Linked DNA regions of Homo sapiens: all the other regions are reported to be linked to region 1. Evidence: microRNA targets listed by miRTarBase, many of them from high-throughput screens and not tested one by one. Region 1 holds a microRNA gene; each other region holds the end of a gene's coding sequence.
What was found. The annotated mature microRNA hsa-miR-204-5p reads UUCCCUUUGUCAUCCUAUGCCU and lies in region 1 at 980-1,001, shown strand. An mRNA with a match to its seed (bases 2 to 7 or 8) in the 3' UTR can be bound and repressed. Matches are read on the target gene's strand: a 7mer-m8 pairs with bases 2 to 8, a 7mer-A1 pairs with bases 2 to 7 and ends in A, and an 8mer does both.

Region 1 (3,270 bases):
AACCACATCAGAAATTAGTTACTCCCTATTATTTATCATCCTAAAGATACCATATAGGACAGCTTGACGGCACTATTGGGATACTACTAGGAGGGAATGAGCATTTATTTAGGTTCCAAGCACCATGCTAGGCATTTTCATATATACTATCTCTTTTAATACTCACAAAAACCCTTCAAGATAGGGATTATTTTCTTCCTTTTATACAGTTGATGAAATGGCACCTCCAAGAGGTTAAGCCTTTGCCTTAAATCCAATTAGTGGCACAGCTGGGTGCAAACCTAGGCTGACATAATTCCAAAATACTTTCTCCTTTCATCCTACACATGGAAGCATTATCTCATTTTTTTAAAAAGGCTCCCCTAAAGTTTGGTTACCTTGGAGAGTTTGAGGGTCATTATTCCATTCAGCAACTATTTGAGCACCAACTCTGTGCCAAATATAGGTTGAGCATTGATTCAGTTGGAATGAGTCATCAAGCAAAACTTTGGGAAGAAGATGGTGGTTAGTTGCAAGATGGTGGAGAAACAATATTAGGAAGAAATACAACAGGGTGCTGGAGAGGAGCGTGGGGATGGAGGCAAGCAGAGGACCTCCTGATCATGTACCCATAGAACAGGGCGATGGAGAGGAGGGTGGGGTTGGAGGCAAGAAGAGGACCTCCTGATCGTGTATCCATAGGACAGGGTGATGGAGAGGAGGGTGGGGTTGGAGGCAAGCAGAGGGCCTCCTGATCATTTACCCACAGGACAGGGTGATGGAGAGGAGGGTGAGGGTGGAGGCAAGCAGAGGACCTCCTGATCATGTACCCATAGGACAGGGTGATGGAGAGGAGGGTGGGGGTGGAGGCAAGCAGAGGACCTCCTGATCATGTACCCATAGGACAGGGTGATGGAAAGGAGGGTGGGGGTGGAGGCAAGCAGAGGACTTCCTGATCGCGTACCCATGGCTACAGTCTTTCTTCATGTGACTCGTGGACTTCCCTTTGTCATCCTATGCCTGAGAATATATGAAGGAGGCTGGGAAGGCAAAGGGACGTTCAATTGTCATCACTGGCATCTTTTTTGATCATTGCACCATCATCAAATGCATTGGGATAACCATGACATGAAATTTTCCATCATTGGGCCCATAACTGTCCCATAAGAGAGATGAAAAACACTGTATGTTAAAGGTCATAGTAGAACTTCATCCAAGCAGCTCTGGAATTAGGAAGGAGTGAAATATACTCTCAAAGACTAATAGTTCTGGGTCCAAACCATGTGACTTGAAAAGGAAGCAAAGATTCCCCTGGACAGGTTACATATACTGTCATGCATTGCTTAACGATGGGGTTACTATATCCTCAGAAATGAATCATTAGGTGATTTTGTCATGAACATCATAGAGTGTACTTATACAAACCTAGAAGGTATAACCTACTACACACCTAGGCTATATAGTATAGCCTATTGCTTGTAGGCTACAAACCTGTATAGCATGTTACTATGTGGTAGTGAATACTGTAGGCAACTGTAACACGATGGTAAGTATTTGTGTATCTAAACATAGAAAAGACACAATAAAAACATAGTATAAAAGATACAAATAGTACACCTTAATAGGGCACTTACCATGAATGGTGCTTGCAGGACTGGAAGTTGCTCTGGGTGAGTCACTGAGTGAGTGCTAGAATATTTTTGTATACTACTGTAAACTTTATAAACACTGTATAATTAGGCTATACTAAATTTATTTTTTAAATTTTATTTCTTCAAAACTAAATTAACCTTAGCTGACTGTAACTTTTTTACTTTGTAAACTTTTTAACGTTTTAAAACTTTTAGACTATTTTGCAATAATACTTAGCTTAAAACATAAGCACATTATGCAGCTATACAAAAATATTTTCTTCATTTGCTTATTCTATGAGCTTTTTTCTGTCTTTAAAATTTTTTATCTTTGTATTTTTTAAACTTTTTTCTTAAAAATGAAGACACAAACACACTCATTAAACTAGGCCTGCACAGGGTCAGAATCATCAAGATGTCACTAGGTGATAGGACTTTTTCAGCTCTATTACTACCTTATGGGACCACCATTGTATTTGTGGTCTGTCATTGACCAAAGTGTCATTATGCAACACATGACTGTATATCAAGAACATCTTATTTCCTTCTGTGGGTGCTACAATCTGTTCAGCCCAATCATGCAAACTTTCTACTGCCTCAAACAGTCAAGGGAAAGGCCTTCCAAAACACAAATACCAAATTGATGATCAGTTCACTTTAGACTGTAATGACATCATTTTTCAGGTGCTGTCAAGTAAACATGTTTAAAGCTTTCTCCGCCTTTTAGAGGGTCTTCCCTCTAAAGAATAATTTGTGAGGAATAAACAACACAATCTATATCCCTGCTTTTTCATTATATGAAACGACTTGACACAGTTGGCTGTGTAACTGAAATATTTGTCATGCTTGTTAATGAAAAGTTACTTTGTCAATAAAGGTAATAATGAAGCCAAAAAAATAACTTTGAGGGAACAGAGCAAATTTTAGCGAAACTGGTTTCTTGGTATTGACTTGTCATGTTTATCTCACCCATTTTCCTATTCAAGCTAAAGACCTCCCTTTTTTCAGCAAAGAGACTTTTCTACATTGGAATTAGTTGTTCAGGGACTGGGATAGTTCTTGTAAACAAGTAGGTCCCAACAGGAGAGCTGTCCACCATTCTAAGACTTCTTAGACACTTTTACATTCAGGGAAGAATTTTGAGCTCCCTTTTCAGATTAGAAAGATTTGGGTTGCCAATGTTTGACTGGCATTTTGGTCTCAAAGTCAGCAATGTTTACTGTTGTTGGTCAGATACAATAGGTTCCTAGCATAACATAGGAACCTGTTATCTTGATGGAACCCAATATCTTCCTTATTTCATTGCTAACTACCTTTCATATTTTTCATCTGTTTTTATAGCTTCTCCTAACATAACACCATGTAGATCGTATGTCCCATCCATTTCAAGATACTTACAGTTTCCCTTAAATGATATACCCTACTGGATGTGGTTTTGTCTCTTTCTGACATTTACTAAAATTTCATTCTCTTCTCACTCTAACTACCTGGCCAAAACCTAAATTCCTTCAAGTCTCAGATTAAAAATCTTCTCCTCTCTGTAATCTTACCACAACTCCCATCCCTAGTATTCCCTCCAGCTCATACCCTGGTATCCTCCTGGGCCCACATTCACCTCATCCTCCATGCTCTTGCTGTGCTCTATATCAGCCTCTCCCAC
Region 2 (3,000 bases), not on the chromosome of region 1:
AGGTATTAGAAAGGATAATTTCCCTCAGGTCTTTGGGTTTCATGTACGATTTTTTTTAAACTGCTTATTTTCAATATGATAAAGGCATTTAAGAAACAAGGCCCGGCACGGTGGCTCACACCTGTAATCCCAACACTTTGGGAGGCCGAGGCGGGTGGATCACCTCAGGTCAGGAGTTCGAGACCAGCCCAGCCAACATGGGGAAACCCTATCTCTACTAAAATACAAAAATTAGCCGGGCATGGTGTTGTGCGCCTGTAATCCCAGCTACTCAGGAGGCTGAGGCAGGAGAATCGCTTAAGCCCAGGAGGCAGAAGTTGCAGTGAGCACAGATCATAGCACTACACTCCAGCCTGGGTGAGAGAGCAAGACTCCATCTCAAAAGAGAAAAAGAAACAAGCTGTAACTCACTAAGCTAAAGACATGGCCCCTAAGCTTAAATGTACAAAGAGAGGGAGAGTGAATATTGAGATATATGTAAAAGATATTGTGAGTCCTGTTTTCTGGACTGCTTATTTTAGATCTATTAACAGATGGACATACTTTTCGTGACCTTTTCTGACACAGGCATCAACTTCAGGGCCATTTGATCTGGATGTTTTTTTAAAAATAGGACTACTCTAGCAAGAACATGGTAGAAAGAGAGTCGCATTTATCAGGCCATCCAATCTAGGAAGGAGGGAAAGAACTGATCAGATCATGGTCAAATTCAAAGCCAGGGAAGTAGCATCAGCAGGAGTAGGATGAGAGTAGGTGGCACAGAAAAGCCACCTGCGATCCACAACCAAGCAGCATTTCCTCTGGATCTTGTTGACAACTTTTGGCTGAGTGTGGGCAGTCAGGAAGAACCAGAGGTCTGCAGGCAAATCCTCCCTGAGTCCCAGCCAGTGGTGGAAGTGCTGGACCGGATGGCAGAGCCTGAAGCTATCTCAAACCATTCCCAAATAAGAAATACCACATGCCACTTCTAGCTTTTATTATTTCGGCCCTGAAGCAAATTAGGCATCTAAGGCCCACAGAGCAGGTGTAGCTTAACAGGAATTGCGTTGGGCAACAGCTGCCCAACACAGTTCAGGAAACTCAGGAAACCTGAGTTTCAGTCCTGTAGAAAACCACCTCTTCAACAGTCGAGGAAATCAGCCTTTACTTGCAACAAATTATTATACATTTCTAAATGCTTTGGTGTCACTGAGTTGATGTCCCAAAGCCATCTGATATTTTTAAACCAGCTTTTTTGCTATATATGTATATGCATAGAATTGCCATGATTTATTACACTTGGATCTGTGGATAGTGAAGAATATGTCTGAAATGTGATGCAAATTCATTCAAGAGATTTAAAGCCAGGAAACAAAGCCTTTGCTTAACTTTTTATTCATCATGGCACAAGATAGAACCTTAAGAAACACCACTGGGAATTTCATCACCAACATGAAAATTAAGAGTAGCATGTTTTATAAAAAAAAAAAAAATCTTTTTTTATAATACACTTTCCCTTCAGAAGTGAAAAAAAATTGCATAAAATACTGAAGCGTATCGCCATCTGCTGGTCAAAAATAGTTATGCACTTGAAAAACTTCAAACTACTAAAGTACGGTAGAACATTTTACAATACACATAAAATTACGAAAGAAAACATTTCCTCAGCCTTTGGCACAATGTAAGTACAAAGCTGTAGGCCTTTTACCAAATGTGATTTAGTTTTTAAGGAATTGCATGTAATTTGGCAAATACTGATTATGGGGCAAAGGGAAAAAACATGTTCTATAATTTGAATATTCTGTGTAGATTCTTAAACACTTTATAGTTGGATTCCAGTTTGTAGTTTTGAAAAATACATAAAAATTATACATTATAAATATATATTATATATGGCCTATATAAAACTGAATTTGATGTAACGTGGGACGGACAACTTCTTAATTTCTTTGTGAGGCACTGCCTTTTTCTTGTTTGGTTAACTGAATCCTTTCTAAACAAGTTCTAAAAATATATTTCGTAATCTATCAGATTTAGCATTTTCCTGAAAACGTATTCAATATCTAAAAGCATTCAGTGATTTTTCTTTTTGTATCTGACTCCTATGTAAAAATATGGCTTCTCATATTCTGCTTCCTCTTGTTAGTGTTTGGTATCGAAGGAAGGGTTATCCCCAGTTATAAAGCTATGGCAAAAGCACAGAAACCCGCTTGTGCACATTCTAGAACATTCTATAGAATCTCATTGTTTAGTATATCTCATTGCTTAATATAAGTGAAGTGATTTTTTTTTTAAAAGTTCCTTTTGTTTTCTCTTTGTGAATATATCATATATGATTATACATAATCTGTTACAGAATACACAATAGTCAAAACCGAAGACACATAAATACGGTTAGGCTATACCAAGCAAGAGTTGTATCTTATATTATAGAGCCAAGAGGGACGTTTTTAGATTGGACATTGCCATCTGGTTTGGGTTCTGTTTGTTTTTCCTAAGGCTGGCTACGCAATGGAACCTTATTCTCAATGGCGGGGGCGTGAGTGCTCTACCTCTGTAGGTGAACTGGATTTCTCTTGTGTCACTTTTGAGAAGTGTGAAAGAAGAACACTAAGTGTGCCAGTGGCCACCACCCACGGTCCCCCCTGGGCTGGAGGGCGGGGGGCTCGGGGCAGGGGGGGCTCGGCTGGGTGCGGGCTCAGACCAGCGTCTCGGGCAGGGCATCGGGGTTGTCGGTCGACAGGAGCTCCCAGATCTGCCAGCGCTCTCTCTGCCAGTCGAGCCAGCCAGCGTCCCCCAGGCGCGGACTGTCCTGCTCGCCCGCTGGCAGGGAGTTGGCGCTGCTCAGTTTTTTCTGCGTGACCTGCTGCTCTCGCTCGGCTGCTTGGCCTCCCTGGTCCGTGGGTGTCTCCACGCCTTCCGGGGGCCCCTGGATCCAGGCTGCCGCTGCCGCGGGCTTCCCTGGGCCCGGGTATGGAGGCGGGGGCCGCTTGTCATCCCTCCCACTCCCATGGGGTCTTT
Region 3 (3,000 bases), not on the chromosome of region 1:
TCTCCTTGGTTTGGAAGGTGTAAGATAGTTGGAATATTACTATTGGTTATTACTGCAACTACTACTAATAATTTACATTCACCAAGCACTTGTTTTAGACACTGTGCCAAGTCCTAGTATATTTTAAAGTCATGTTGGACCATCCCTTTGACCTCAAGAAAAAGTGTTCACTAGCCGTAATAATACGCATAAAAGATGACTTATTCTCAGCAACAGAAACTCAATAAAAAGTTGATTAAGCCACCGGATAGTTATAAATTGTTAGTATAGTATTTAAACATGCAGTTTCTGTCACAGTGAAGGTGGCCTCTAGAAGTTGGTGCGTTCAGCTTTTGAGTCAAAAACCGTTCTCTTCTTAGCAGCCCCGCACCAATGACTGAGATGACAGAGGACCACAGCCTGACTGCTTTAATGGATGTGTTTTCACTCTAGAACCCCCTGTCAGACTGGCAGAGATTTTGCCAGGTCCGCACTGCAGTCTAAGACTCTCTTGCCAAATCCTGCTCCCAATCCCTCTATTGTTACAAGTTTTAGGTCTGCAAACTTGTCTGAAGGTTTTCCCTGCCCAATGCGTCTGCTTCCAGAAGGACCCAAATGACACAGCTGGACTAGCCTTTAGGTGTTCCATGTTCCTCTTATGTCCCTGCTGGTATCTTGCTGTGTGATCACTGGCAAGCCATTTCTCTTCTCTGTTTCTCTATAATAAAGAGTCTTACAAACAAAAGTGACCCTTGGGATGATTTGGTTGAGTATTCTAGAATTTTAGTTTGAGTTGATGATTCTGTTAATAGATCTTCCACTGATTGAAAAAAAAATTAATGACAACAAAGGTATTTATAAAAATATATTTCACAAAGTAGGAAACAATACAGGAGTTTCTCTGAATACAATACATGGAGTGAATAAACAATATTGCATTAAAGCAAAGTAGAAAATTAAAATGATCTGCATGTAATACTTGAGTTTTATCATACATTTTCTACTCCTAAATGGCAGGTTTGCATTACAAATTAAATATGCTCACATCTTCTAGTGCTGTTCCTTTTTGGAGTCTAAGACATTCTGTGCATCACCATGAAGATCAGGGATAGGAGTGCTAAAAACGTAAACAGTGAAATTATGTACAAATCAGTTCCTGCTCTAAAACTGTGGGGGTAAATTGAAGCATGTTTATTGGGCAGGGCATGATGTAGGTATCTAAAAGTCTAGAGTTTAAATATTCACAGGAATCAATATACTTTAGGATGTTTGTGCTTGTAGTAAAAACACCAAATACTAGGATTATGAACAAAATAGAAAACAGTCCAAAAGTTTGTCTGGGAAGATGCTGTTCCTGCCATCTCCAGTTACAATAACACTTTCTACTCTAAAGAGACTATTAGCTCTCCTTTCGATAATATTGCCTGCCATACTCATCTCATCAAAATGTACATGTATTAAACATTCATTGTATATATATTTATATAAAACAATCTAAAGGATTATTAATGGATATAATTTAGTTTTTTCCCATATATCCCCTTAATCTATAGATTACCGACCTTAATAAATAAAAGCATTAATGGACATCAATAAAATATTTATTTCGAGGATTAAACAAATAAATTCACGCGCTAGCAATAAAACCATCTGTCTCTTATGTAGTCCACTGTGTGATACAGTTTATCTTTGTGTCCTTGTGGAAGAAGATGAAGAGGAGGGAACGAGGAATCCTGCTTCTAGAAAACAAGCATGTTTGAATGGGATTTCTCTCCTCCCACCACTGAATTGGCAAGCCCCACCCTGGAATGGATTACGAACATGTGAATATTTTAAGGCTCGACACAATATTTAAAGATGCTATTCAGTCTCTAGTGAGTGGGGCCAACAATTATGTACAATGTGTGGTCACCGTACTGTATAATCTAGGAGGCCTCTCAAAACTCCAAAAAGTTATAATGTACAGCAGACCAAGTATTGCTTTATCATTTGTGGCGGGATCCTTATTGGTGAAGGGGAAAAAACCATTTGCATTCATAAAAATCCTTGCAGAAGACACATATCAGCAGCAGATTCCTTGCAGGTCCGTATTTTTTTTTCTAAGAAAGCACCTTTTAATTATGATTTTTTCCTCTATTTAAACCATTTATCTAAGGATTAGCCAGGATCCCAATCTTTGTCTGTGGTGGTCAGGTAAATATCAAATATCCAAGGACTTCTAGACACTCCACATACTTAATTCACACTCCACAAGATTTATAACCTCCTAACATATACTTTTTTATTTTATTATCTTTTTTTGGTTCAACATTAAAATGTGGTTGAGTTTATAGATGACTGGTGCTAAACTTGCCTCTAAAACAAATAGCCACATTGGTTGTATCTAAGGGGAGTGACCCTAGAATATTACAGAATGCTCAGTTCCAGTGATTTATTTATAATCCACTGTCAAGTTTCTTTGTCACTTTCACCAACAGAGTAGAGTTCGCCCAGTCTCTTAAAGCGGGGACCCCAGTCACTGAGGTAGTCAAAATTCTGGTCTGAGTCTGATGTGGTGGACTCCAAGGAGCTGAGGGAGCCAGCCACTGACCCTCGGCCTTCATAGCCATATATCTGAATGGAGTCATATGGCGGGGCCGTGGGATCATTATCTGCCTCATGCAGCCTTACATTTATAAATTCATCGACATCAACACCATTTGGAACTGGAGCAAGCCCTTGCCTTGGCATAAACTGCAAATCTGGTTTAATATCCTTACGGGGTAAAAATCCATTAATTCCATCTGGATTTTGTAAAGTTGCAATGTCAAAAGCCTCTGTGTCCTCCTCCCCTCCTCCTTCATCATCGTAGCGAATGATGTTTTCTCGAACGTCTTCATCATCTTTGATAATTAATGGTTCATTTTTATGCCGCCGTAGAGTTACAAACAGCACCACGATGACTAGAGGAAAAATATTAAATAACAGTCAGCCAAACAAGCATATAATTTCACAAGCAACACACTATATATGTTAGGAGAG

Region 2: miRTarBase lists ARHGAP6 as a target of hsa-miR-204-5p. Seed matches in the 3' UTR shown: 7mer-A1 at 1,492-1,498.
Region 3: the mRNA of CDH8 is a reported target of hsa-miR-204-5p. Seed matches in the 3' UTR shown: 7mer-m8 at 143-149.

What each region holds. Positions count from the first base shown.
Region 1 is chr9:70,807,762-70,811,031 of GRCh38, reverse strand. MIR204 (microRNA 204) reads left to right here and starts at 948; the gene lies at 948-1,057. All of the region lies in intron 6 of TRPM3 (transient receptor potential cation channel subfamily M member 3), which reads left to right.
Region 2 is chrX:11,136,186-11,139,185 of GRCh38, forward strand. ARHGAP6 (Rho GTPase activating protein 6) reads right to left here. Exons shown (of 13, transcript NM_013427.3): 13 at 1,359-3,000. The coding sequence ends at 2,678. Among named protein-coding and RNA genes, the nearest start is that of HCCS, 26 kb to the left of the region's middle.
Region 3 is chr16:61,651,181-61,654,180 of GRCh38, forward strand. CDH8 (cadherin 8) reads right to left here. Exons shown (of 12, transcript NM_001796.5): 12 at 1-2,921. The coding sequence ends at 2,428. Among named protein-coding and RNA genes, the nearest start is that of CDH8-AS1, 270 kb to the right of the region's middle.